Linked DNA regions of Homo sapiens. The protein of the gene in region 4 interacts with the protein of the main gene of each other region in a pairwise test. Each region holds a gene or a part of one and is shown on either strand. Other genes may lie near its edges. The genes, in order: GOLGA3, MCF2L2, LRRFIP1 and OLIG2.

What was found.
Region 1: the proteins of OLIG2 (region 4) and GOLGA3 interact in a two-hybrid assay, tested with the Homo sapiens proteins (one large-scale study listed by BioGRID and IntAct).
Region 2: the proteins of OLIG2 (region 4) and MCF2L2 interact in a two-hybrid assay, tested with the Homo sapiens proteins (one large-scale study listed by BioGRID and IntAct).
Region 3: the proteins of OLIG2 (region 4) and LRRFIP1 interact in a two-hybrid assay, tested with the Homo sapiens proteins (one large-scale study listed by BioGRID and IntAct).

The regions. Positions count from the first base shown.
Region 1 is NC_000012.12:132,773,370-132,776,869, forward strand, and holds part of GOLGA3 (golgin subfamily A member 3), read right to left. Parts: intron 3,388-3,500; coding exon 3,265-3,387; intron 1,937-3,264; coding exon 1,772-1,936; intron 952-1,771; coding exon 788-951; intron 1-787. UniProt on the Homo sapiens protein: Golgi auto-antigen; probably involved in maintaining Golgi structure.
Region 2 is NC_000003.12:183,174,605-183,182,483, reverse strand, and holds the end of MCF2L2 (probable guanine nucleotide exchange factor MCF2L2), read left to right. Parts: intron 1-2,324; coding exon 2,325-2,413; intron 2,414-2,791; coding exon 2,792-2,907; intron 2,908-2,980; coding exon 2,981-3,104; 3' UTR 3,105-4,443; downstream 4,444-7,879. UniProt on the Homo sapiens protein: Probably functions as a guanine nucleotide exchange factor.
Region 3 is NC_000002.12:237,754,164-237,762,463, forward strand, and holds part of LRRFIP1 (leucine-rich repeat flightless-interacting protein 1), read left to right. Parts: intron 1-1,931; coding exon 1,932-2,024; intron 2,025-3,292; coding exon 3,293-3,385; intron 3,386-4,565; coding exon 4,566-4,658; intron 4,659-5,900; coding exon 5,901-6,042; intron 6,043-8,300.
Region 4 is NC_000021.9:33,022,611-33,031,431, forward strand, and holds OLIG2 (oligodendrocyte transcription factor 2), read left to right. Parts: upstream 1-3,324; 5' UTR 3,325-3,416; intron 3,417-3,425; exon of another isoform or gene 3,426-3,650; intron 3,651-4,190; 5' UTR 4,191-4,252; coding exon 4,253-5,224; 3' UTR 5,225-6,575; downstream 6,576-8,821. UniProt on the Homo sapiens protein: Required for oligodendrocyte and motor neuron specification in the spinal cord, as well as for the development of somatic motor neurons in the hindbrain. Functions together with ZNF488 to promote oligodendrocyte differentiation.

The DNA.
Region 1 (3,500 bases), on a different chromosome or scaffold from region 4:
ACTCGCTAGCACCTGAGTGGACCGGGGCGCCTTCGGGGATCCGCAAACCAACTGAGACCACAGAAGCTCAGCTGTTCTCAGCACCGTTCTCTACACTGTGCAGAGGACACAGGCTCAAGGACCAGTCCTGACCAGGCGGCAGGGTGGAAGCTGTCACTGAGGCCTGGCACACACGACTTCCACTCCGTTACCTGCCCTCGGGGCGCCGCCTGGCTCCGCCCTACACACTTCGCTCAGCCTCAGGCTGCCAGGTGCACCATGTGTGGCCTTCCAGCTTCTCAGGGCCTATCAGGGTAGTTTAACTCCAGGCAGTTTCCACCTATGAGTTCACAGGCTGTGTGTGCGAGTTCCCCCACCTTTATATAAACCTCAGAGGCTGTGCGAGTCCCCCTCCCACTTTATATAAACCGCAGAGGCTGTGTGAGTCCCCCTCCCCCTTTATATAAACCTCAGAGGCTGTGCGAGTCCCCCTCCCCCTTTATATAAACCGCAGAGGCTGTGAGTCCCTCCCCCTTTATATAAACCACAGAGGCTGTGCGAGTCCCCCTCCCCCTTTATATAAACCTCAGAGGCTGAGTCCTTCCCCCTTTATATAAACCTCAAAGGCTGTGTGTGCAAGTCCCTCCCTTATATAAACCTCAGAGGCTATGTATGCGAGTCCCCCACCCTTATATAAACCTGCTGAAACTCTGCTGGGCACTCAGTACTGGCACCAGGAGTGCCCTCCCAGGTAAGAGGGCATTAATCTTTAAGACTAGCTGAAGTGCAGCACGGAATACGGTCGTACTTGAGCTGCTGGAGGCAGCTGTTCAGGTTCTTGAGGGGCTCCTTGCTCACGGCGGGCGGTGGTCTCAGCAGCTCCTCCAGCAGCGAGGCGGGAACTGGGCAGTCCGGGATCTTGATGGGCGTGGCAGGGTTGGAAGAGCTGGCCTCGCCTTTCGGCTCCTTTCTCTGTTTTTAAAAGCACATGATCAGCTTTCCCACCGTCCCCTCCCTCGGGTCAGTCTCACTAGCACAGCTTGTGGCAAACGGGCCTCCCCAACTGGTGGACGTGGGGCCTCTGGGAAGGGGACCGTCCTGGCCGCCGTGGCAGCCCAGCACGACAGTCCCCGGAGCTCCAGAATAGCTGGCTGAGGAAACACCTTTATTCCTAAGGCACAAAACCAGAGCAAAGCAGAGACAACCTAAGTCCTGGGTCTGCGGCAGGACGGGGCCGAGCCACAGACTACAGCTCTCCCAGACGCTTCTCCCATCAGATACTCAAGACCTTGATGTGGAATTTCCGTAAGAAATTAAGTAAGTTTTCCAGCTTAGGCTCCCTTTTCTGGGACTTCAAACTTTTTCCACAGATAAGCACACGACGCTAAACGGCCTCTCAATCCGAGCGCTGCCCTCCCACCTGCCTCCTGGAAAACATGGATGTGGACCGAGCACAGAAAACCGCCGGGCGCCTGGGCACAGCTCCCGGGCCCCAGCCCTTCACACACAGCAGGGACTGCCGAGTCACAGACCACCGCTCATCTGCTTTACAAAGCACATTACAACAAAGTGGTATTTGAATTCACAGAACGAGGAAAACACTGTTGGATGAATGAAACCAGAATGAAATGATTTCATCTGTCACCCCATTACCACTGACTACACAGCAGCTGCTCAGTGTGGGCTCAACAAATCCGTTTATGTCTGAATGACTAACACGTCTGCCAGCCTCCTGTCCGAGAGCATCTACAGCGCACGTCGGCTACCCCGGGAGGGACGCGGGCCTGAGTACCGTCTTGGCCGCGCCGCGGCGTAGGTCCAGCTTGAGCTGCTGGTTCTGCTGGAGCAGGGTCTTCATGTTGTTCTTCAGCTCCGACACTTTTGCCTGGAGCATAAATTTATCCTTCTGGGTCATGGACAGGTCTTCCTGGGCCATCTCCAACTCAGACTTGACGTTCTGTGGAAAATGAAGTCAGATTTTTAAAAGCTAACAGATCTTAAACATCCTGCCAAGATCCGAGTTTGTATTTTCATAGGTTAAGCACACACATGTCCTCCTCGGCGCCATCTAGATGATGCCAGTCCAGGTCCAAAATGCTCAGGACCAGAAGTGTGTCAAATTTTGGAATTTTGAATATTTGCGTTACAACTACCAGCTGAGTATCCACAATCCAAAAATTTGAAATGTTCCAATGATCATTTCCTTTATCATGTTGATGCTCAGAAAGTTTCAGATTTTGGATTTTTGTTCTTGTTTTTTTTAGACACAGGGTCTCACTCTGTCATCCAGGCTGGAGTGCAGTGGTCCAACCACAGCTCACTGCCTAAGTGCTGGGACTACAGGTGTGAGCCACCAGGCCTGGCCAGGTTTTGGATTTCTGGATGATGGACGCTTGTCGGCCTGTGTCTATAAATAAATTCTCACTGTAACTCAAGCCCCTCATTTACAAGGGGAACTTAGCAATTACACTCCTTTCCCGAGCAGTCAAGACCGAACCCTGAGTTCTTTGTTGAGAAGTTTATCGCAAATTGGCAAACTTTTCCCACGCACCCTCCCATTTGCTGTAGTCCATGAAATCACGTTCTTGGTCCGTGACACACAGCGCGGCCAAGGGATCGGAGCCGGCCCAGGCTTCGCCCCTGCCTCTGTCCTGCCGCATGACGTGGACCAGGTGGCTTTGCGAGCGCCCCACTGGACGAGGGCGCCAGCTCCCCGGGAGCACTGCCTGGCCGCAGGCCGCATGGCACAGGAACCAGGGGCTGCCCCAGAAGTGGTGCTCCCGCCTGTGTCCAGCACCTCATACACAGGTACCTGCAGCAGCTGCTGTAGCCCCTCCAGCTCCTTCCTCCCTGCTGCTCCCGCCTGTGTCCAGCACCTCATACACAGGTACCTGCAGCAGCTGCTGTAGCCCCTCCAGCTCCTTCCTGCCCTGCTGCTCCCGCCTGTGCCCAGCGCCTCAGATACAGGTACCTGCAGCAGCTGCTGTAGCCCCTCCAGCTCCTTCCTCCCTGCTGCTCCCGCCTGTACCCAGAGCCTCACACAGGTACCCGCAGCAGCTGCTGTAGCCCCTCCAGCTCCTTCCTCCCTGCTGCTCCCGCCTGTACCCAGCGCCTCACACACAGGTACCCGCAGCAGCTGCTGTAGCCCCTCCAGTTCCTTCCTCCCTGCTGCTCCCGCCTGTGCCCAGCGCCTCACACACAGGTACCCGCAGCAGCTGCTGTAGCCCCTCCAGCTCCTTCCTCCCTGCTGCTCCCGCCTGTGCCCAGCGCCTCACACACAGGTACCTGCAGCAGCTGCTGTAGCCCTTCCAGTTCCTTCCTGCCCTGCTGCTCCGTCAAGTCCAGCTGCTGCTTCAAGGACTGGATTTCTCTTTCTTTCTGATCCACCTCCCATTTGAGATTTTCCATCTAAAGAGGGGAAAGTCACATGGCCAAAAGAATATTAAAGTGGCTTTACTGCCCTGGAAAATGGCTCTAGCTGTGTTTTGGTTTATCTTTTAATACCATATTCAGAAAACCAT
Region 2 (7,879 bases), on a different chromosome or scaffold from region 4:
TCCGCTTGTGTTTGAATTGTATAAATGTGTTTCTGCGTGTATGCTGTGTTAGGGGGTAAAATTTGCATCTCCCTGAGGTTGCACTCTAAGGTGTATGGAAAACCTGGCTCTAGACTAAACCAGGCCCCCCGTGGTGCTCCAGGCATCCCCACCCTCACCTGTGGCACCCGGAGCTCCTGCTGTCACTGGCCCAGGTGGGTCCTGTGTCTTTCTCTGCGTTGTCAGGGCCTGCGCTGACAGTCCCCCACAGGGAGGTGGAATCTGGGGTTGACAGCACTGGGAGGATCCTTCCTCTTTCCACGTTCAGGCAAATCCTCGCCTGGAGGCAGGGAATGGGCTAGAGGAAACAGTTGACTGTTTCAGATGACCCTGAAACAGTTGAGTCCAGGGTCTGAGAGCCCCTCTGTGCCCAGCGCTGTGCCCCCTTCCCTTCCCCGCTTCCCTGCAGGGCCCGCGAGAGCAGGGAAAGCAGCTGCCAGCTCCAGGCAGTCATTTTACCCCAGGTGCCACTTACCCTGCAGAGGGGCTGGAACCAACTAATCATTTTACCTGGAGGTACCACTTACCCTGCGGAGGGGCTAGAGCTTGTCAGGTTTTTCAGTTCCTGTGTCGCCTCCCAGCCCTGCCCACCCCAGGCTGTGGCTGCCTATGGCTGACGAAGGCTCCTGAGCCAGGCCCAACCGCCAGCCTCCCAGTGGGTGGCTCTATGGTCCCTAGCAGCCCTGGCATCATCCGGGGCACAGAGGCCATGGACCCTGGAGACACAGCCCTTCCTATTCATGCAGGGGATGGTCAAGGGCATGGCTCCCTCTGTCCCTCTATCCCTCCATCACAGAACTTTCAGCAAGACAATCATTCTTCCATTCTCACTGCTTGCTCCTGGCATAAGGGGACCCCAGGGCTGGATGACTTCTCTAAAGAGGAGTCTTGGGTTTCCTTAGATGCTCCCAAGTCCTGTCTGGAGGATGAAGGCAGGGGGCACATCCCTGAGGCAGTTTCTCCTCTGCCCTCCACCCCTTGCCCCTCCCACCTCCTGGGACTAGGAACTCAACCAGGACTTGCTTCAACCTGAGAGGAGGGTGTCCAGCCCCCTCGGAGCCTGCCAGAGTCAGGCAGGATTTCAGAGGGGCCTCCAGGGAGGTGCTGCCCAGCTGCCCCCCCGCCCCCATGTTACTCACACAGCCCCCACTGATCTGCTCTGGGGAGGGCCTGGGGCCCAGAACGTGGCTTGTTGGGGGCTTGGGGCAGCAGCCCAGGAGACGCTACTTGTGCTGCCTGCTCACCCAGATAACTGCAGCTCCCTCCACTGCCGCCTACCGCCCTCTGGCCATGCCTCTGCCCAGAATGCCCTCCCTCTCCAGTCCTGTCTGCCCCTCAAGTCCTGCCCAAACCTCCCTGAATTCTCGCCTGAGCAGACACTTTCCTAGCACGGCTCCCGCCGCGTAGACTACTCAGCTGACCCTCGGTCTGGGGCTGTCCTGTGTTGGGACCTTTCTGCAGATGCTCTGCTCCCTACCCTGGCTTGTGAGCCATGTGGGGCAGAGACTCCATCTCACTCAGAGCGAGGGTAAAGAGCAGGAGTGCTGGAGAAGACAGCTGCCCTGCCACAGGCCAAGAGGACTTGGCCAAGTGACCATTGCTGTCTGTTTCCCCAACTGTAAAGGGGGCTGAGACCCTTACAGGGTTGTGAGGCTTAAACTTTGACAAATGCCTAACATACCACCAGGCACAGGGCAGTTGTTCAGTATTTGGCAGTGGCTGCTGTTCCCCACAGTGTCCAACACCGCCCCAGGGATGTAACATGTGCGCCATAGACAAGACTGATGGATTAATTAATCAGTTCACTGCAGAGAGAGGCAGGATGGATGCACTTGCTTGTTCCTCTGATTTTCCCTTATGGGGAGCAGTGACACTTGGCAGAGGCTGCCAGGGAGATGGGAAATGGACATTAATTAGGGGAGAGAAAAGGAGGCAAGGAGGGGAGGGTGAGAAAGAGACAGGGGAGGAGGAAGGGAAGGAGGCGTGGTTAGAAGACTGGCAAACACAAAAAACAATGACTGTTTTCTTGGAGGAACGGGGAGGTAGGGCCATGAACAGCATGTGGACGCGCCTTCTCGGTGAATTACGGCATCTCGGCGCTGGAAAAGCAGCCTGGAGATCACAGACCCCCTCACAGCCCAGCGCAGTGCAGGCCCTTGGAGAGCAGGAGTTAGAGATGGGGAGGACCGTGCCTGCAACAGGCACTGCCTGCTACACCCTGCCATGGGCAGAGGGGATGTCCTCCCACCCCACAGAGGCCCCATCCTTCCCTTTCTCTCCCTAAGGCTGCTCCAGCAGGGAGTTTAGCTCCATGGACACCTTTGAAGACTGTGAAGGCGCAGAAGACATGGAAAAGGAGAGCAGTGCTCTGAGTGTAATTACTTCCCTTTTGTTTCTTTCATCTTCTTCCCTCCTTCCTATTCATCAGCTCCTCCTGCCTCCTGTCCCTAGCCTCCATCCCTCTCCCCCTCCTCAGGATTCTCACCCATAAGGACCTGGTTAAGCCAGGGAGCCGAGGTCACCAGACCCTCAAACTGGCTCTGACCCTCCTAGTCCAGCATGTCCCCACGTGGCTGTCTCCTTGGCGGTGCGCTGGTGTCCGGTCATAACTGGGGCTCCCGCTGAGAGCCCCGTGGCCCAGGTGGGAGGGCTGGGGTGGGCCTCAGCCTGCCAGCGGGAGTCACCACCTTGCCCGGTCTGGCCACAGCCTCCAGCAATAACTCTGAGGGTGCACCCGTCCCCTCCCTTCCAGCTCGCGGGCCTTTTCCAGTCGGACGACAGTCACGAAACCTGTTCCTCCAAATCTGCTTTCCTGGAGAGGGGAGAAAGCAGCCAGGGAGAAAAAGAAGAACGCGATGAGGAGGAAACGTGAGTGTGAGCGAGGAAAGACTAAGCGCCTCTTTGGGCCACGGCGTCTCTGACTTTCTTCTCGGAATTGCAGGGCGACCCGCAGCACCGAGGAGGAGCGCGCTGGGGCGTCCACGGGCCGGCTGGCTCCTGCGGGGGCGACGGCTGGTTTCCAGGCGAGGGCGCTGCGCCCGAGGACCTCCGCCCAGGAGAGCTGACCTCCCTGCGGACGCCCCCGCTCCTCGGCTCCAGAGCGCCCGCATTCCCGGGAGAGGCGGTGTGGGGGCCCGGGCCCTGCCCAGCTACGCAGAAAGCAGCCGGAGCCTCGGCGGCGGCAGAAAGGGGACAACCAGGGCCTCCTCCGAGGAGCCCGAGGGGTGTCCTGGGTGCGCGCCTAGCTCCGCACGGGGGACCTCGGAGCTGCTCTAAGGCGCCTGCAGAGGCGAGCAGAGCCCGCAGCCCACGCCTTCTCGACCGCGCACTTCGATATTCGGAGCCGGGCAATTCTTTGCTGCGTGGGCTTCTCTGTGCTCCCACGGTAGGATGTTTAGTAGCACCCCTGGCCTCTACCCACTAGGTGCCAGGAATGCGCCACCCCATCCTCCACCCCGCCCCCAAATCGTGACAATCAAAAATGCCTGCAGACACGCCCGCATTTCTCCAGGGCGGGGTGGGAATCGGTTGAGAGCCGCTTAGCCCGAGCCTTGGAGGAGCCGGAGCCGCTCCAACCCGGCGGGGGCCGCAGACTGGGAGCTCCCGGTCCGCCTCCCAGCATCCCTGCGAGCGTTCATGGGGTGTTCGTGTTAGTGCCAAGATTGCTTCGTTGTAGAGAGAGTTCGTTCCAAGTTACTTTCTGAGGTATTTTATGTATCGATTTATTAGTTTTTAAATGAGTTTTGTTAGTTTCAGTTGTATTTTATTTTTAGTTTTATTAGTTGATTTTCATTTCTTTGTAGCTTTCTGGTTATTTAATTTTATAGTTTCAGTTACTGGTTTATAGTTACTTTATTTTCAAAGTTATTTAGTTGTTCATTTTCAGTTATTTATATGTAGTTGTTTTGTTTTAGGAGTTACAGATGTTCAAATTAATTTGCTTGGAATTTATTTATTTATTTATTTATTTATTTTTCGAGACGGAGTCTCGCTCTGTCGCCCAGGCTGGAGTGCAGTGGTGTGATCTCGGCTCACTGCAAACCGCCTCCCGGGTTCACGCCATTCTCCTGCCTCAGCCTCCTGAGTAGCTGGGACTACAGGCGCCCGCCACCACGCCCGGCTAATTTTTTATTTGGATTTTTAGTAGAGACGGGGTTTCCCCGTGTTAGCCAGGATGGTCTCGATCTCCTGACCTCGTGATCCCCCTGCCTCGGCCTCCCAAAGTGCTGGGATTACAGGCGTGAGCCACCGCGCCCAGCCGGAATTTATTTTTAATTATCTTTACAATTATTATCTGAGTTATTTACCTTCATAGTTATTTCACTTTATCTTATTGGAGTTTTTGAGTTATTTATTTTTACAGTAACTTATTTGACTATTAAACACTCACTGGAAGTTCATGAACTACTGTCAAGTTATTTATTTTCAGAGTGAAATGTTTTAATGAAGGGTTTCCCCTAGTTATCTGGTTTTCGAGTTGCTTATGTTCACAGGTATTTATTTTCAGTTATTTTATATTTGAGTTGTTTATTTTTATGTTCTTTTTTTCAAGTTACTTGGTTTTTAGTTATTTCATTTTCAGCATTACTTCATATTTGAACATTATATTTTCTGAATTTTTAAAGAGTTTTTGAGGTATTTAGTTTTTGAGCTATTTTCAGAGTTATTTATTCTCAGTTATTTCTTTTCAGCTTTGTATTTGCCATTCAAATTTTTTTTCTGTTCTTTATTTAATTGTCAGATTTTTTTTTCTTTTTTTTTTTTTTTGAGATGGAGTTTTGCTCTTGTCACCCAGGCTGGAGTGAAGTGCCGCAATCTTGGCTCACTGCAACCTCCGCCTCCCGGGTTCAAGCAATTCTCCTACCTCAGCCTCCCAAGTAGTTGAGATTACAGGCACCTGCCACCATGCCCGGCTAATTTGTTGTTGTTGTTGTTGAGACGGAGTCTCTCTCTGTCACCCAGGCTGGAGTGCAGTGGTGCAATCTCGGCTCACTGCAAGCTCCACCTCCCGGGTTCACGCTATTCTCCTGTCTCAGCCTCCTGAATAGCTGGGACTACAGGCATCTGCCACCACGCCTGGCTAATTTTGTTTTGTATTTTTTTTTTTTTTTAAGTAAAGATGAGGTTTCACCATGTTAGCCAGGATGGTCTGGATCTCCTGACCGGGTTTCGCCATGTTTGCCAGGCTGGTCTCCAACTCCTGACCTCAGGTGATCCATTCGCGTTGGCCTCCCAAAGTGCTGGGATTACAGGTGTGAGCCACCACACCCGGCCCTCAGAATTATTTAGAGTTAGAATTCTTAGTCTACTAGTCAAGTTTCAATCAAGAGACACTGTATCAGTTATTTCAAGAGAGAATTTAATATAAATAATTGTTATCCAGCTAGTAGAGATTTAAAAAAAAGTAGTGATAATGAGATATCATGAAGATTTTGACTGCAAGCTCCCAGCCCAAGGACTCATACAACAAAGAAAAGAGGTTGAAAATATCAAAACTCAGAAATATGAAGGTGGCCCTAGGGCTGGGGGTTAGTCCTCTGAGGAGGAGGCACTATTAATTGTACACGTGGCCCAAGGGCTCAGAGCTCAAGGTCCAGGAGCTGGACGCAGAATTCTGGAGAGGGGACATGGCCAGCCCGTGCTGCTGTCTCTGAATGGGCATCAGCAGGCTGGTTATAGGAGTGCTAGGAAAATGGCAAGCTGGAACCAACTCCCGCTACTGGAACCAGCTGTCACTCTCAGGGTGGAGACAGGATGCTGACAGTGGGGGTGGGGTGGGGTGCACACAGGAAGGAGCCCATGGTGACCCTGCACCCCAGAGCTGGGAAGGGTGGGCTGGAAGCTTAATTACCAGCACACTCAGCTTTAGAGTTACATAGAGTTATGTTAGGATTCCGTTAGTTTTGGAATTGTCAGGGGTGATTTGATTTCACATTTTCATGGGATATGGGATTGGGATGAGTCTTCAGTCTCCTGGTTTGTTTCTGGAATAGAGTGGGCCACACCTCCCAGGAGTCTCCCCCAGGGAACTCAAGACAATCACTTTAGAATTCAAGAAAACAAAAATAATGTGTCTCACTTCGTTCATAAAGAAGGCCTTTGACAACGTGGCCAAAAAGGGGCAGAGCCTAAGGGACAGACTCTTAGAAAGATGCCCTTGGAACAGGGTCCCGCAGAGTGTTCCTCTCAAATTCTTTAGAACTTTACACTGTTTTGTGGGGCCACCCTCTCCCACGCCCTTTCCTAACAACAGTGTCTTTCTTGATAGAGTATGTTTCAAATTTGTAGACTGTTTGCACAATAAAATAAAGTTCCTCCCAAATCAAGAATCTGTAATCTTAGGTTCTTCTACCTGCATTATTCTTCAGCCCACATTGTTCCATTTGACCATCAGAATGTTTACATATGTATATATGTCTGGATGGATGGAAGGATGGATGGATGGATGGATGGATACACTTATTTTATTCAATATCTATTTCCTGAGCATTCCCCTGCCCTGAGGATGGTTCTGGCACCAGGTAGAGACCAGGGAGGTATGAAGATGAGTGAGGCTCTCATTCCAGTGGGGGAGACAGATGTGGAAAAATAATCACAACACAATGTGGCAAATTCTCTGGGAGCATAAAACACCATCACTGACTCTTCCTGATACCGTCAGGAAGGGGTGACATTAGAACTGGGTCTTACTGGCAAGTGTTCTTCTCCTGGTGGAGAAGGAGAAGGGCATCCTGGCAGAGGGAATAGCATGAGCTCAGGTACAGGGGCACAGAGGAGCTGTGCATGGCAGGTAGGACGAGTTGATGGAGGCTGCTGGGTCACAGGGTTCAGAAAGGCACTAAGCTTAAGAGCTGGCCCTGGTGCTTGACAGATCCTGCTTCATTTGGTCCTGCAGCAAGTCTGCAAGATAGTAGGGAGCAACCTCAGGAGTCCCATGCTTCTCCTGACCTTACTTTTCCAAACACAGTTTACATTTCTGGATATCTTAAGCTCCTTCTTGATTTTATCCATCTCCCACTTTTCACGTGTCCATCGGAGGTGAGTTGCCCCCTCTCCTTCACCTTTTGATTCCTGCTGCTTACACATCTGTAGGGATGGAGGAGGGTTGAGACCAGAAAGCTGTGAAGTGCAGACTTCCTCTGACAAGGGAGGTGGAGGAGAGCAGGGCAGAGACCTGCTTGTGGGAATGGCATGCAGAAGTTCTGCAGACCAGCACAGTGGGGAATGGGCTCCGGACATCACCAGCTGTGACTGCCTCCAGCTGCATTCAGCAACCATGGAAAGGTCGTGGGGATGCCTTTCCAAAAGTGGGAGGCTGCTTTAGATCCAACCCAGGCTTATGAATGCAACAGATTGGGATTTTTTAAAGCACGTAGAGCCCTTTGCAGCATTAACAGCAATAAACATGCCTCCCAAGTCAAAAGAAAATATAGTCCTAAGACTATACTTTCAGGGATCATTTCTATAGTTCGTCACTAGAGAAGTTTCTCTGAACGTGTAGAGCACTGATGCAGCCAAAAAACACATGAAAAAATGCTCATCATCACTGGCCATCAGAGAAATGCAAATCAAAACCACAGTGAGATACCATCTCACACCAGTTAGAATGGCAATCATTAAAAAGTCAGGAAACAACAGGTGCTGGAGAGGATGTGGAGAAATAGGAACACTTTTACACTGTTGGTGGGACTGTAAACTAGTTCAACCATTGTGGAAGTCAGTGTGGCGATTCCTCAGGGATCTAGAACTAGAAATACCATTTGACCCAGCCATCCCATTACTGGGTATATACCCAAAGGACTATAAATCATGCTGCTATAAAGACACATGCACACGTATG
Region 3 (8,300 bases), on a different chromosome or scaffold from region 4:
TCTGATTTTTATTTTGTTCTCTCTCAACACCATAGGGAAATAGTTATGAGTATCAAAGATTTTAAGAAAATTATATTATTTTCTGCTGATTGGGAAAAGACACAGTTACTCTACTTAAGAATTAAATATATCACCAAGCTCAGAGAGAGAGATAGTCTTATCTGAGCTTTCATTAGGAACCACTGGAACTAGTTTGTTAATAGCTGAGATCAGATATAATTTCTATTGAGAGTCTCAAGCATGAGTCATGTGTTAAGATAAGTAATGACAGCGGACTGATTCCACGAAGGCTGGGCTTGGATGTTCTTTAGATAGAAAGCAAGGAATACTTTTTTCATACTTTTAGGAATTGTCCAATTTTTCAGAGATTCTGAGAAAAACAGAAAATGTAATGTGTGAGTGTCGTTGTTGTTGTTGTTTTTAACTGGCTATTATCCTCTAAATCCAAAGGGTTAAAACCAAGGTACCCTTGACAACCTTCAGGCCTGCTTCTTCGACTGCTATAGAATTGAGTTGGAAGCTGAAGAACATTTTACGCACAAAGTTCCTTATAGCTGAACTCTGCAAGAGGGGAGCTTTTCACAAGACTGATGTCATGTGGGAACGGAGGAGTGGAGAGCACAGCCCAGCCCCCCTTCGGGTGGGGGCCTGTAATGCATATGCATTCCTCCTGGAATGCTGTCATTAGGCATCATTCAGTGGACTGAAAACTCCCGAGTCTCACTCCAGAGAAGCTGGATGGTGCTAGAATGCTGTCCCGAGATGGACACAGGGGCCATGCAAAGCCCCACAGGAGGGCCCTTGTCATAGCCAGGAGGGCACCAGCCACCCCCAAGCTAAAGGAAGTGGGCGAACAGAAGTGCCAGGGTGAGCAGAAGCTCAGGCCAGATCCCATCTCAGATCACCCGCCTGACAGGTCTAGGGAAGGAGCGTCCTGCAGGCCTGTAAGCTGTCAGCAAAGTGAGTTGGGTCTCAGGCCGTCACCAGGGATTGCGCTGCTGTGACTGGGCAGGAACACAGCAGAGCCGAGCTGCCAGCTTCCTGGGCTGAGCCTCAGGTGGGGAGGCCAGGCCTGAGGAGCAGCTAGGTTTTGCAGGCTCTCCATTTGCTCCCCCAAACTCTCCTGTTTTTGTCTCTTAAGGGGCAGCCCTGAAGCACAGAGCTGGCCACCAGCTGTTCATGAGAGATGCTTTAGTAGGCCATGTTTATCTCCTTTTTATCCCAAAGAGTTTTCCTTGTCATATTTCAGCAGGGGCCATTTTATGGTAAGTCCTTGCAGGGCAGCCTCACCCAGGCTCTCAGCACAGTGCTGTGGAAGACACCAGGCTCCCTGGGGGGGCCCTTCGTCGGCTCTTGCTTCACTGTAGATAAGAAATCAGAAAATCCTTGTTGATTGCATCAACTCCTCAGGTTAATTTGACAGTAAGTCATCAGGCATCATCTATAAAGTCCAGAGGAATCTGTTTGTGTTGTTTGAAAGGGCTTGAAGGCCAGGTGCAGTGGCTCATGCCTGTAATCCCAACACTTTGGGAGGCTGGGGCAGGTGGATCGCTTGAGGTCAAGAGTTTGAGACCAGTTTGGCCAACATGGTGAAACCCGATCTCTACCAAAAATAGAAAAATTAGCCGGGCATGGAGGCAGGCGCCTGTATTCCCAGCTACTTGGGAGGCTGAGGCAGCAGAATCGCTTGAACCCAGGAGGCAGAGGTTGCAGTGAGCTGAGATCGCACCACTGTACTCCAGCCTGGACAACAGAGCAAGACTCCATCTCAAAAAAATATATAAATAAAAAATAAAATAAAAGACCTTGAAGATTGTGATGATGTAGTAGCAGGTGATTTGTTCCACAGAAACTATAAATCGTGAGAGCCTGAACTGGCATGCCAGAAACATGGGATTCCACTGCTTTAGTGCTGTTTTTCTCCTTTACAGGAATTTGAAAGGGAAAAACACGCCCACAGTATACTGCAATTTCAGTTTGCTGAAGTCAAGGAGGCCCTGAAGCAAAGAGAGGAAATGCTCGAGGTAGGTAGCATTCTCCTGCTTTTCTTTTCCTTTTTTCCCTTTGGAGCATTTTGTCAGGCCATGACTATCTTAGCTTAGGCTGCAGTAATAAAATACCATACACAGCATGGCTTAAACAACAGAAATTAATTTTCTTACAATTCTGGAGGCTGGGAGTCCAAGATCAAGGTTGGGTTCAGGTGAGGCCTCTCTTCCTGGCCTGCAGACAGCCACCTTCTTGCTATATCCTTCCTCCAACGGTGGAGAAAAAGCAATGTCTCTGATGTCTCTTCATATAAGGACACTAATCCTATTTGATCAGGACCCCACTCTTATGACCTCATTTAACCTTAATTACTTCGTAAAAACCCTATCTCCAAATACAGTCACATTGGGCATTAGGGCTTCAACAGATGAATTTAGAGGGACACAATTCATTCCATGGCAATTACTAAAGTTTTCAGTTTTCTTAAATCTGAGAGTTTAGGCTAACTCTCCATCCCTAGATTTACGAAACAGTCCCTCTCATTGGTGAACATTCCTATTCTTTGGTGATCTTGTATTTGTTTGGGGAGGTGTGGTAGACAGAATAATGGTCCCCCGAAGTTGCCTACATCCAGATCCCTGGAAACTGTAAATATGATGCCTTACATGGTTAAAGGGCCCCTGCAGTTGTGATGAGAGACCTTGAGAGAAGGGATTATCCTGGATTATTTGATGGAACAAGCATCCTTCTAAGAGGAAGGCAACTCAAAGGCAGAAGTAGAAGATGTGACACAGGAAGCTGAGGTTGGAGCGATGCGAGAGAGGGGCCATGAGCCAAGGAAAGCAGCTCAGTCTTAGAAGCTGAAAAAGGCAGGGAAACAGATTCTCCCTAGAGCCTTCCAGAAAGGCTTGATTTTAGCCCATAAGACTCATTTTGGACTTCTGACCTCTAGAATTGCAAGAGAATAAATTTGTGTTTTAAGCTGCTGAATTTATGACGATTCATTACAATGGCAATAAGAAACTAATACAGGGTTGGTTTTTAATTTTTTGACTTAATCGGTTCTTTAACTGCTGCCTTGAAGTGAGAATTTCACCCAAAGCAGGTTTTCTTCCTGCACTTCTTGAAGCCGGAAGTAGGACAAGGAAAAAAATCCTAGAATGCTGACAATGAGTTCAGGGTTGATGAGGTGAAAGAGTGCTTGCGGCCTCACTCACTGTCCCAGCTCTCAGGTTCTCTCTCGGGCTGGGGTTTTTCTTCCTCTTTAACCCTTTATCTGCTTTCTGTCTGTTCCTTTCCTCAGGAAATCCGACAGCTACAGCAGAAACAGGCGAGTTCTATCAGGGAGATTTCTGATCTTCAGGAAACAATAGAGTGGAAAGACAAAAAGATAGGGGTAGGATTCCCAAGTCTTGAAAATCTACTCAAATGGGCAGCCTGCTTAGCAAATAGAGTTTTTTCAGAGTCTTTAGTTTGCAAAACCGCTTGTCTGAGTATGCATGCAACTCCCACGTGACACAAAGTCGTATTAATTTATTTAATTTTATTAAGTAGTGAATACACTAACTTATCCAAATTGATATGAACTTGGATTGTGACACGGACTCTCCATGGAGGGTCTTGTGAATGCGTAGCTGTGCGCTCTGCCTGCCCCGTGGCTGGGCCGGGCCGGTGGTTGTTGAAACAGCTGGAGTGAGGAGGACACTCTGAGGAGGTCTGATGTGTGCAAGTCCAGACGTCTTGGGATTATCTGCCTGGTGGTGCTTTGAGAAAAAAAATCTAAGCACCACCAGGCAGATATCCCCACTTTGAAATCTTCCCCAGGGAAGGTCTCCACATACCCTTCTCCCTCCACAAGAAGAAAAGAGGCAGTTCTACACTTAGAATTGAAGGATAGGGGGAACAGAACCCCACAAAGTAGTTGTCATGATTGGTAACAACAAATGGTTTCCCCAAAATGGTGATTCCTACACATAGCTCTAATAAAGACGTCGAGATACCTGCACAAACCATCGGCACGTTGACTCAAGCCACACTGTGTTTCCACTGTCACGCTCATCAGCACTTAGGAGTGTGTGTGTGTGTGTGTGTGTCTGCATGCACGCACACTTTAGGACCACTTCATTTATCTGAGATGATGGATACCAAGAATCAGTGTATAAAAATAGTCTAAATGGCTACAACAGCCGTCCTGGGAGGTGCTTAAGCAATCCCTTTTCTTTACTGACCCCTCATTCAAGTGGAGACTTTGCGTAACTCTAACGCAGCTGTGAACACGCAGACAAAGCTAGAAAGTGATGCAAATATAGTAACCTCTGGGGCCCCGTGCTGTGTCCGTGTGCTTCAAGATGCGCATGTCTTTCATGGAGTATGAACAGTAACATTTCTTGGATTATATATACTAAGCGAAAAGCTTAATACTTGGATTTTGTTAGTATCTTTAGGCAGAGTCTCTTTAATGTCTAGAGTCCACTAGTGTTTTAGATGGTAGAAGCCTCCTTCTGGTTCCTGCTTCTGAAGTAACTTGCTCATCTGTGCAAATCTTCTTCTTTCTCTTGGCTCTGCTGCACACTCAGGCATTAGAGAGGCAGAAAGAGTTCTTTGATTCCGTAAGGAGTGAACGGGATGATCTTAGAGAAGAAGTAGTCATGCTGAAAGAGGAATTAAAGGTATGAAGCCAAACTACAGTTTTATTTAAAAAAAAAGAAAAAAAATCCAGGTGACAACAGCAAATTTTGGGATGCTGTGAATATGTGTGTACATAATTCATTTTATGTCATTTAGTTCTGTTAATAATTCATATATTGGGTTAACTGACAGCGATGAGATGTAAAATAAATGTAGGTTCAGTGGGTGGTGCCCAAGGCCTTTTGATGTTAATAAACATAGCCAATCTTGAATGCAAGAATTTTTTGATACATTATCTAAATTTTTCTCATACTCACTAGTAAATTCTCCAGGATATTACTCAGACTTAGAGAATTAATTTGCCTCTTTATATTAAAACCCCCAATTTAAGGACTTCTCTAGAGGAACAGTGACTTGGGTAAGTGGTTTGGGCAAGGATCCCGCTAATTAGACTTTGAGACCTACTAGATTACAGGTGGAAGACGGTTCCCTGTCCTTGGTGGGCCACGCCAAGGCGTCTTCAGCCGCTGCTTGACACAGGTGAAGCGCCAGTGGCAGCACTCTGGGTGGGGGGGTTCCTGAACCGTCACCATCTGCTGCTTGGCCTCCAGGGTCAAAGCCAGAGCAGTGAGCCAGCCAGCTACAGGCTTAGAGCTAAGATTCGTAATTCTGCTCCTTGAAGAGGCGATCAGTTCAGGGGAGTTCCTCACACACAAGGGAGAGAGAGCCACAGGCGGCAGGAGGGCATGGGTGAGTGATGTCTGCAGTTGGGAAGTGCTGCTGTTTTCAGTGAATTCTGTTTCTTTTGAATATACTGAACATTCTAGCCACCTCTGAATTCCTTCTTTAACATAAGTTTCGTGTGTCTCTTTCAGAACATGTATATATTTCTTTCTTTATCTGGTTTCTCTTTTTAAAGAATGCAATCAGGGTTTTGAAATGAAAGGTCACTTGGCAGTGACTTGCTTACTGCTCCACTTGGGGGCAGCCCACAGGCCACTACCTGTAGTTAAAAAGGATGCCTGGTGGAAGTAGCTTGTCACCAGCAAATGAAAGCATGGATTGGAACATCTGAGAAAGAAGTAGCCTTTGGAGGACGATATCCCAGATTTGTGTGTGTTGACCGAATATTTACGAGTGCTGCACCCTAGCATTTCTCTTGTCTCTGTGGAGTTACCCTGTACTTCAGGAAAAAATGGTTTTCTTTTTTATTATTGTATTAAAACAGAGTTTAACCTAATATCACTGAGTAAATATTACGATGAGCCTATTTTTGTTCCCAGAAACATGGAATAATCCTAAATTCAGAAATAGCTACCAATGGAGAGACTTCCGACACCCTCAATAATGTTGGATACCAAGGTCCTACCAAGATGACAAAAGAAGAGTTAAATGCCCTCAAGTCGACAGGGGATGGGACCCTAGGTAAGTATTTGCTTTCCTTCGGCTCCTCACACCTTTCCACTCAGCATTGGTTCACCCTCCATGCACTGCTGGGGTTGGAGCCACCGTCGCTGATGGGTTAACAGTCACCAGCATGCCATTTGTTTCATCACTTCATGGTAATTTCCTTGCCCACCCGGTGTGGTCACCCACGTGTTGTCTGGCATGCATCTCTGTGTAGTGCACCATCAATGGCTCAAGTGAACCTTTTCTTTTGCTGCTCAAAGCTACCAAGCAAGACTGTGAAGGCAAAAGGAAAACAGTCTCAAAATTAAGTAACAATGTGGAGAGTACTATTTGGTTTTCCTCAGACACATATATATCTGTACCTATAAAGTGTGGCTTTTTAAACCGATTCTATGACAGAATTATCAAAAGATCAGAATGGTTGAGGCCGTCAAGTCAGTTGGCCATATTTGCAAGCCAACATCGACATCCTGGGCAGCATTCAGCGCTTTGAGGGTACGGGGTGCCTGTGGACAGCAGGTCCGTCTGTGTTGCCTTTTTCAAGCCACCGCTCGAGGTGGGCAGGCGGCCGTGGTAGTGGGTGTGGCGGTGCTGAGAGTCTGAGTATGCCCACCTTTGTCAGAGGGGATCCTCCTTTGTATGCCACGTGTTTGCTTCTGAAAGAATATAAAACTGGGGAATCCAGTAGATCAGAGGAATATTTTATACCATTTTCAATGATCTGATTTGTCATAATTTGTCATAAGAGTTGGCTTTGGGAGAAACCTTCAGATTCTGGCGTGCAGCCTGAAGTTGCAGCGTGCAAGTGAGGCCTCATCTGTCACTGGTCACCCTCTGCGTTCCAGTGTTTTACAAAGAGGCTGGAATAAGGTCAGGGTCCGTGACTTTTCATTTTAATGTAGAAGCTTTCATCTTATTTCTTTTTATTTATGGAAATGTAGACACCTCCAGGCCCCATCTTCTCAGGCCTCGCATTCCAGGGAGGTACCTCATTCATTATCTTTATGACTATTAAAGAAACACAGCTCTTTTCAATTGTGTAAAAAAAGTTGTGGCCTAGTGCAGTGGCTCACACTTCTAATCCCAGCGCTGCGGGTGGCCAAGGCTGGAGGATCACTTAAGACCAGGAATTCCAGGCCAGCCTGGCAACCTAGCAAGATTCCGTCTCTAGATAGGTATGTAGTATCTATATACCGTTGTTGAGAAAAGATAAATTAATCAATTTCCATCATACCTTTATATGAGCTACCCGAACAGCTAGGAATCTGATTACGCTGCTCTTACTCAAATACACATTTTATAAATCTTTGATAACCATTGTGAAATGTTGTAAGAACCAGAAATGTCAGTTTTGAAAGTGGCCTTCAAATGACTTTTGATCACATATTCCTTCAGCAAAGAATTGTAGGATCCAATATGTATGTTTATTTTAAATCTACATATGTATACTATTTCATTAATATAAAATGTACGTTATAAAATATATGCAAAGATATGCAAAGAAGTTTTAGAGTAAAACTCTAAATAGAATTCCTAATATTTCCCCCATTTTCCCTGGGATATGGGCACCCCACCATGGAGATCACTGGGCTATAAAATTATCTAGCTTTGACTTTCAGTAACATAGTACCATATCTAATCTGCTGGGGTTTTGTTTGGAGAGTCCAAAAATTCCAAAACAGTTTGATGTTCTTTAGACGATGAATAATTTATCATTTAATTTAGTGGTCATCTTGATCTTGAACATTTGCCTCCTGCTGGTCCTCTCTCCCTAGTCCCTTAGGGAATGGAGCAGAGGTATCAGGGCATGGACACAGGGTGTTTTCTCAGGAAAACAATAGTTGAGTGGCAGAAGATAGATTTCCTTTCATATGAGCTATTTCAAAAGCATCTTCCTTGAGACTGACCTTGAGGCTGCATTTCTAAAAGTGCACTGAATATTCTTTTTAAAAATTACTTGAAAGCTGCTTTTAGGGCTGTGTGACATGGAGTGCAGTTTGACAGCTGCAAAAGTACAAGTTGTCAAGTTGTTCATTGAGAAGTGAGAGTGGGGAATTGAACCTTCAGTCTGTTCCTAAACCCATCATTGTGGATTGTTTGGCTGCCTGATCCAGAGTTCTTTCTATTTGTTGAAACTTAACGTCACCTTTAAAAATCTGTCCACACAAGATGGCACCAGCAGCCACTCTGGCCTTTGATGTGGTGGCAGTGGCCCTCACTGACCCAAAATTTACTAATGCAACTGCTGCTTTGCCGCACAGAACTGGCAAAGG
Region 4 (8,821 bases):
TGAACTGTCCTGGACCAGTCCCGGGAGCCGCGGTTCTGACCAGCCGTGCTGACCCTGGACGACTCCATGAGCTGTTTTGTGAGAAAGACACGCCATTTGTTTGCAGAGTTCTGACTTCTGAGGGGTCATGTAGCACATGTTTGGTAGCCAAACGCTGTCATTCACGACCAGGAGCGATGGCTGCAATGCCTTTTTCTTTGCTTTGCTTTCCGGTGCCGGGAGCCTTGCCTCCCGCCGCCACCCCTGGTCAGCTCTGCGCAAGAACGTCGTTCTGTTTGGCAGCCAGGCCGAGACGCAGCCTGAATGTGAGCAGGAACTCGGAGAAGGGAAGGGAGAGAATCAGAAAGAAGGCCCGGGAGGGACCCGGGAAGCAGTGGGAGGTCTGCGCCCTGGAGCCCCGCGAGAGCCCGCCGGTTTGGCACGGGCTCCTCCCGGGCCGCCCGGCGGTCCAACAAAGGCCGGCCCCGACACGCACCCGGTCTTTTGTGGGAGAGAAACACAAAGAAGAGGGAAAAACACGGAGGAGGCCAACAGCACCAGGACGCGGGGGCCAACCAGGAACTCCCGGAGCCGGGGCCCATTAGCCTCTGCAAATGAGCACTCCATTCCCCAGGAAGGGGCCCCAGCTGCGCGCGCTGGTGGGAACCGCAGTGCCTGGGACCCGCCCAGGTCGCCCACCCCGGGCGCCGGGCGCAGGACCCGGACAAGTCCTGGGGACGCCTCCAGGACGCACCAGGGCAAGCTTGGGCACCGGGATCTAATTTCTAGTTATTCCTGGGACGGGGTGGGGAGGCATAGGAGACACACCGAGAGGTACTCAGCATCCGATTGGCACCAGGGCCAAGGGAGCCCAGGGGCGACACAGACCTCCCCGACCTCCCAAGCTACTCCGGCGACGGGAGGATGTTGAGGGAAGCCTGCCAGGTGAAGAAGGGGCCAGCAGCAGCACAGAGCTTCCGACTTTGCCTTCCAGGCTCTAGACTCGCGCCATGCCAAGACGGGCCCCTCGACTTTCACCCCTGACTCCCAACTCCAGCCACTGGACCGAGCGCGCAAAGAACCTGAGACCGCTTGCTCTCACCGCCGCAAGTCGGTCGCAGGACAGACACCAGTGGGCAGCAACAAAAAAAGAAACCGGGTTCCGGGACACGTGCCGGCGGCTGGACTAACCTCAGCGGCTGCAACCAAGGAGCGCGCACGTTGCGCCTGCTGGTGTTTATTAGCTACACTGGCAGGCGCACAACTCCGCGCCCCGACTGGTGGCCCCACAGCGCGCACCACACATGGCCTCGCTGCTGTTGGCGGGGTAGGCCCGAAGGAGGCATCTACAAATGCCCGAGCCCTTTCTGATCCCCACCCCCCCGCTCCCTGCGTCGTCCGAGTGACAGATTCTACTAATTGAACGGTTATGGGTCATCCTTGTAACCGTTGGACGACATAACACCACGCTTCAGTTCTTCATGTTTTAAATACATATTTAACGGATGGCTGCAGAGCCAGCTGGGAAACACGCGGATTGAAAAATAATGCTCCAGAAGGCACGAGACTGGGGCGAAGGCGAGAGCGGGCTGGGCTTCTAGCGGAGACCGCAGAGGGAGACATATCTCAGAACTAGGGGCAATAACGTGGGTTTCTCTTTGTATTTGTTTATTTTGTAACTTTGCTACTTGAAGACCAATTATTTACTATGCTAATTTGTTTGCTTGTTTTTAAAACCGTACTTGCACAGTAAAAGTTCCCCAACAACGGAAGTAACCCGACGTTCCTCACACTCCCTAGGAGACTGTGTGCGTGTGTGCCCGCGCGTGCGCTCACAGTGTCAAGTGCTAGCATCCGAGATCTGCAGAAACAAATGTCTGAATTCGAAATGTATGGGTGTGAGAAATTCAGCTCGGGGAAGAGATTAGGGACTGGGGGAGACAGGTGGCTGCCTGTACTATAAGGAACCGCCAACGCCAGCATCTGTAGTCCAAGCAGGGCTGCTCTGTAAAGGCTTAGCAATTTTTTCTGTAGGCTTGCTGCACACGGTCTCTGGCTTTTCCCATCTGTAAAATGGGTGAATGCATCCGTACCTCAGCTACCTCCGTGAGGTGCTTCTCCAGTTCGGGCTTAATTCCTCATCGTCAAGAGTTTTCAGGTTTCAGAGCCAGCCTGCAATCGGTAAAACATGTCCCAACGCGGTCGCGAGTGGTTCCATCTCGCTGTCTGGCCCACAGCGTGGAGAAGCCTTGCCCAGGCCTGAAACTTCTCTTTGCAGTTCCAGAAAGCAGGCGACTGGGACGGAAGGCTCTTTGCTAACCTTTTACAGCGGAGCCCTGCTTGGACTACAGATGCCAGCGTTGCCCCTGCCCCAAGGCGTGTGGTGATCACAAAGACGACACTGAAAATACTTACTATCATCCGGCTCCCCTGCTAATAAATGGAGGGGTGTTTAACTACAGGCACGACCCTGCCCTTGTGCTAGCGCGGTTACCGTGCGGAAATAACTCGTCCCTGTACCCACACCATCCTCAACCTAAAGGAGAGTTGTGAATTCTTTCAAAACACTCTTCTGGAGTCCGTCCCCTCCCTCCTTGCCCGCCCTCTACCCCTCAAGTCCCTGCCCCCAGCTGGGGGCGCTACCGGCTGCCGTCGGAGCTGCAGCCACGGCCATCTCCTAGACGCGCGAGTAGAGCACCAAGATAGTGGGGACTTTGTGCCTGGGCATCGTTTACATTTGGGGCGCCAAATGCCCACGTGTTGATGAAACCAGTGAGATGGGAACAGGCGGCGGGAAACCAGACAGAGGAAGAGCTAGGGAGGAGACCCCAGCCCCGGATCCTGGGTCGCCAGGGTTTTCCGCGCGCATCCCAAAAGGTGCGGCTGCGTGGGGCATCAGGTTAGTTTGTTAGACTCTGCAGAGTCTCCAAACCATCCCATCCCCCAACCTGACTCTGTGGTGGCCGTATTTTTTACAGAAATTTGACCACGTTCCCTTTCTCCCTTGGTCCCAAGCGCGCTCAGCCCTCCCTCCATCCCCCTTGAGCCGCCCTTCTCCTCCCCCTCGCCTCCTCGGGTCCCTCCTCCAGTCCCTCCCCAAGAATCTCCCGGCCACGGGCGCCCATTGGTTGTGCGCAGGGAGGAGGCGTGTGCCCGGCCTGGCGAGTTTCATTGAGCGGAATTAGCCCGGATGACATCAGCTTCCCAGCCCCCCGGCGGGCCCAGCTCATTGGCGAGGCAGCCCCTCCAGGACACGCACATTGTTCCCCGCCCCCGCCCCCGCCACCGCTGCCGCCGTCGCCGCTGCCACCGGGCTATAAAAACCGGCCGAGCCCCTAAAGGTGCGGATGCTTATTATAGATCGACGCGACACCAGCGCCCGGTGCCAGGTTCTCCCCTGAGGCTTTTCGGAGCGAGCTCCTCAAATCGCATCCAGAGTAAGTGTCCCCGCCCCACAGCAGCCGCAGCCTAGATCCCAGGGACAGACTCTCCTCAACTCGGCTGTGACCCAGAATGCTCCGATACAGGGGGTCTGGATCCCTACTCTGCGGGCCATTTCTCCAGAGCGACTTTGCTCTTCTGTCCTCCCCACACTCACCGCTGCATCTCCCTCACCAAAAGCGAGAAGTCGGAGCGACAACAGCTCTTTCTGCCCAAGCCCCAGTCAGCTGGTGAGCTCCCCGTGGTCTCCAGATGCAGCACATGGACTCTGGGCCCCGCGCCGGCTCTGGGTGCATGTGCGTGTGCGTGTGTTTGCTGCGTGGTGTCGATGGAGATAAGGTGGATCCGTTTGAGGAACCAAATCATTAGTTCTCTATCTAGATCTCCATTCTCCCCAAAGAAAGGCCCTCACTTCCCACTCGTTTATTCCAGCCCGGGGGCTCAGTTTTCCCACACCTAACTGAAAGCCCGAAGCCTCTAGAATGCCACCCGCACCCCGAGGGTCACCAACGCTCCCTGAAATAACCTGTTGCATGAGAGCAGAGGGGAGATAGAGAGAGCTTAATTATAGGTACCCGCGTGCAGCTAAAAGGAGGGCCAGAGATAGTAGCGAGGGGGACGAGGAGCCACGGGCCACCTGTGCCGGGACCCCGCGCTGTGGTACTGCGGTGCAGGCGGGAGCAGCTTTTCTGTCTCTCACTGACTCACTCTCTCTCTCTCTCCCTCTCTCTCTCTCTCATTCTCTCTCTTTTCTCCTCCTCTCCTGGAAGTTTTCGGGTCCGAGGGAAGGAGGACCCTGCGAAAGCTGCGACGACTATCTTCCCCTGGGGCCATGGACTCGGACGCCAGCCTGGTGTCCAGCCGCCCGTCGTCGCCAGAGCCCGATGACCTTTTTCTGCCGGCCCGGAGTAAGGGCAGCAGCGGCAGCGCCTTCACTGGGGGCACCGTGTCCTCGTCCACCCCGAGTGACTGCCCGCCGGAGCTGAGCGCCGAGCTGCGCGGCGCTATGGGCTCTGCGGGCGCGCATCCTGGGGACAAGCTAGGAGGCAGTGGCTTCAAGTCATCCTCGTCCAGCACCTCGTCGTCTACGTCGTCGGCGGCTGCGTCGTCCACCAAGAAGGACAAGAAGCAAATGACAGAGCCGGAGCTGCAGCAGCTGCGTCTCAAGATCAACAGCCGCGAGCGCAAGCGCATGCACGACCTCAACATCGCCATGGATGGCCTCCGCGAGGTCATGCCGTACGCACACGGCCCTTCGGTGCGCAAGCTTTCCAAGATCGCCACGCTGCTGCTGGCGCGCAACTACATCCTCATGCTCACCAACTCGCTGGAGGAGATGAAGCGACTGGTGAGCGAGATCTACGGGGGCCACCACGCTGGCTTCCACCCGTCGGCCTGCGGCGGCCTGGCGCACTCCGCGCCCCTGCCCGCCGCCACCGCGCACCCGGCAGCAGCAGCGCACGCCGCACATCACCCCGCGGTGCACCACCCCATCCTGCCGCCCGCCGCCGCAGCGGCTGCTGCCGCCGCTGCAGCCGCGGCTGTGTCCAGCGCCTCTCTGCCCGGATCCGGGCTGCCGTCGGTCGGCTCCATCCGTCCACCGCACGGCCTACTCAAGTCTCCGTCTGCTGCCGCGGCCGCCCCGCTGGGGGGCGGGGGCGGCGGCAGTGGGGCGAGCGGGGGCTTCCAGCACTGGGGCGGCATGCCCTGCCCCTGCAGCATGTGCCAGGTGCCGCCGCCGCACCACCACGTGTCGGCTATGGGCGCCGGCAGCCTGCCGCGCCTCACCTCCGACGCCAAGTGAGCCGACTGGCGCCGGCGCGTTCTGGCGACAGGGGAGCCAGGGGCCGCGGGGAAGCGAGGACTGGCCTGCGCTGGGCTCGGGAGCTCTGTCGCGAGGAGGGGCGCAGGACCATGGACTGGGGGTGGGGCATGGTGGGGATTCCAGCATCTGCGAACCCAAGCAATGGGGGCGCCCACAGAGCAGTGGGGAGTGAGGGGATGTTCTCTCCGGGACCTGATCGAGCGCTGTCTGGCTTTAACCTGAGCTGGTCCAGTAGACATCGTTTTATGAAAAGGTACCGCTGTGTGCATTCCTCACTAGAACTCATCCGACCCCCGACCCCCACCTCCGGGAAAAGATTCTAAAAACTTCTTTCCCTGAGAGCGTGGCCTGACTTGCAGACTCGGCTTGGGCAGCACTTCGGGGGGGGAGGGGGTGTTATGGGAGGGGGACACATTGGGGCCTTGCTCCTCTTCCTCCTTTCTTGGCGGGTGGGAGACTCCGGGTAGCCGCACTGCAGAAGCAACAGCCCGACCGCGCCCTCCAGGGTCGTCCCTGGCCCAAGGCCAGGGGCCACAAGTTAGTTGGAAGCCGGCGTTCGGTATCAGAAGCGCTGATGGTCATATCCAATCTCAATATCTGGGTCAATCCACACCCTCTTAGAACTGTGGCCGTTCCTCCCTGTCTCTCGTTGATTTGGGAGAATATGGTTTTCTAATAAATCTGTGGATGTTCCTTCTTCAACAGTATGAGCAAGTTTATAGACATTCAGAGTAGAACCACTTGTGGATTGGAATAACCCAAAACTGCCGATTTCAGGGGCGGGTGCATTGTAGTTATTATTTTAAAATAGAAACTACCCCACCGACTCATCTTTCCTTCTCTAAGCACAAAGTGATTTGGTTATTTTGGTACCTGAGAACGTAACAGAATTAAAAGGCAGTTGCTGTGGAAACAGTTTGGGTTATTTGGGGGTTCTGTTGGCTTTTTAAAATTTTCTTTTTTGGATGTGTAAATTTATCAATGATGAGGTAAGTGCGCAATGCTAAGCTGTTTGCTCACGTGACTGCCAGCCCCATCGGAGTCTAAGCCGGCTTTCCTCTATTTTGGTTTATTTTTGCCACGTTTAACACAAATGGTAAACTCCTCCACGTGCTTCCTGCGTTCCGTGCAAGCCGCCTCGGCGCTGCCTGCGTTGCAAACTGGGCTTTGTAGCGTCTGCCGTGTAACACCCTTCCTCTGATCGCACCGCCCCTCGCAGAGAGTGTATCATCTGTTTTATTTTTGTAAAAACAAAGTGCTAAATAATATTTATTACTTGTTTGGTTGCAAAAACGGAATAAATGACTGAGTGTTGAGATTTTAAATAAAATTTAAAGTAAAGTCGGGGGATTTCCATCCGTGTGCCACCCCGAAAAGGGGTTCAGGACGCGATACCTTGGGACCGGATTTGGGGATCGTTCCCCCAGTTTGGCACTAGAGACACACATGCATTATCTTTCAAACATGTTCCGGGCAAATCCTCCGGGTCTTTTTCACAACTTGCTTGTCCTTATTTTTATTTTCTGACGCCTAACCCGGAACTGCCTTTCTCTTCAGTTGAGTATTGAGCTCCTTTATAAGCAGACATTTCCTTCCCGGAGCATCGGACTTTGGGACTTGCAGGGTGAGGGCTGCGCCTTTGGCTGGGGGTCTGGGCTCTCAGGAGTCCTCTACTGCTCGATTTTTAGATTTTTATTTCCTTTCTGCTCAGAGGCGGTCTCCCGTCACCACCTTCCCCCTGCGGGTTTCCTTGGCTTCAGCTGCGGACCTGGATTCTGCGGAGCCGTAGCGTTCCCAGCAAAGCGCTTGGGGAGTGCTTGGTGCAGAATCTACTAACCCTTCCATTCCTTTTCAGCCATCTCCACTACCCTCCCCCAGCGGCCACCCCCGCCTTGAGCTGCAAAGGATCAGGTGCTCCGCACCTCTGGAGGAGCACTGGCAGCGCTTTGGCCTCTGTGCTCTTTCCTGGGGTCACCTCTGTCTCCTCTTGGCCATTGGGTTCTCACAATCCAAACCCGCGATGCAAATTTAGGATGTGGCTGTGAAGAGAGATTCTGGGTGGAAATAAAAATACTTTGGCCTTCCTGGTCAAGGACCAGGGCAGATCCTGTTGTAGTCTCCGTGCCCCAGGGCTGGCCTGAGAATGAGCCCCTGAAAAGACAGCGGGTACGGGCACCGTAAGAACATCCCCTGGTCCAGGGTCCTCTCTCTGACAATATTTTTGGTGGCCACTGGCCACCCTGGAACTGGGGGTGCAGAAGATTTCCCCAGTCAGAACCCCATTTCTTGAGTCGCATAGCTGAGCCTGGCTCACACAGGCAGGCACCCTTTGCTTAGACTTAAAGACTGCTCCGTCCCCTAGCAAGGGACAGGCACTTCCTGCTCCTCCAGCAGGGAATGTCGGACTGCTGGCCAGAACAGCAGTGGCCCAGGGATTGGGTGCTGGAGGCCTAGTTTTTCACCGATGGGCCTGGCTTTTTGCAAAGGCTGGGAGGGATTTGGAGAGGCTGAGCAGCTGGGGGCTGAAGACGGGTGGAAAGCCTCCTGCCCCCACCACCCCAACAGCGCCATGTGAATCCAAGAAGAAGGAAGGGCAGGGTGTAGTCGTTTTTATTCTGAAATCCCATTTGAAATGAAACTTGAAAAGAATTCAAAACTGGGTCCAGCTGCAGCCACAGACACACTCAGAGGGACTCCAGGAGGCTGGAACGTAGACCAGTGGGCGCTGAGAACCTGGCCGGTGGGGGTAGGGGTCTTGATTGCAGTTTTGGCTCTTCCACACCCACTGCCAGGCAGGTGTACTGGTGCAGGCTCTGAGTGTGCTTGGTGTCTGCATAGAAGGACGGTTGTTGAAAGGCAATAAATCAAGTCTTTCCCTCCACCCCTGCACCCAAGCTTTCAGTAGCAACCAGCCACCAGCCAGGCCAGGCAAGACCAGGGCCTCTGAAGAAGGAGGGGCTGTGTCCAGCCAGGCTTTGGGCCCTCCTCCATGCCAGCCGCCTAAACTGTGCACCCAGCTGGAGGCCTTGACCACGGTGGGTGAGACTGGAGCAGCTCTGGACGTGGAGGAGGAAGACACTGGCACACAGTGCACATCCCCTAGAACAGGTGGCTACTCGCCGAGGGTGGCCCTGGACTGGTGGGGGCCAAGGTAGAGGACTCAGCCAGTGGCTGGGCTTTGATGTAGGGCAGGAGAAGACTGTGTGCAACCACTTTGACTTTGGTGGGCTCTTCATTGGCAGTGGGCTCCTCACCAAGTAGGGAAGGGAAAGAGGTAACTGTTTCCGGGATCTGCTGCAGTCTTCCCTGCCACACTGCAGTCCCCTCTGGGGAGCATTCGTTGGGAGATTCTCAACAGGCTGGACTGCAGCTCAGCCTCCTCCCCAGCCCCACTGCGTGGCTCTGCAGCACCCCAGCTGTCAGCCTCCGAGTTTAGAAACTCACCATGCCCCAGGTCTTTGAGACTCCCCAACCCTCCTTAAGAACCTGGGAGCTGGCCGGGGCGCAGTGGCTCAAGCCTGTAATCCCAGCACTGTGGGAGGCCGAGGTGGGCAGACCACCTGAGGTTGGGAGTTA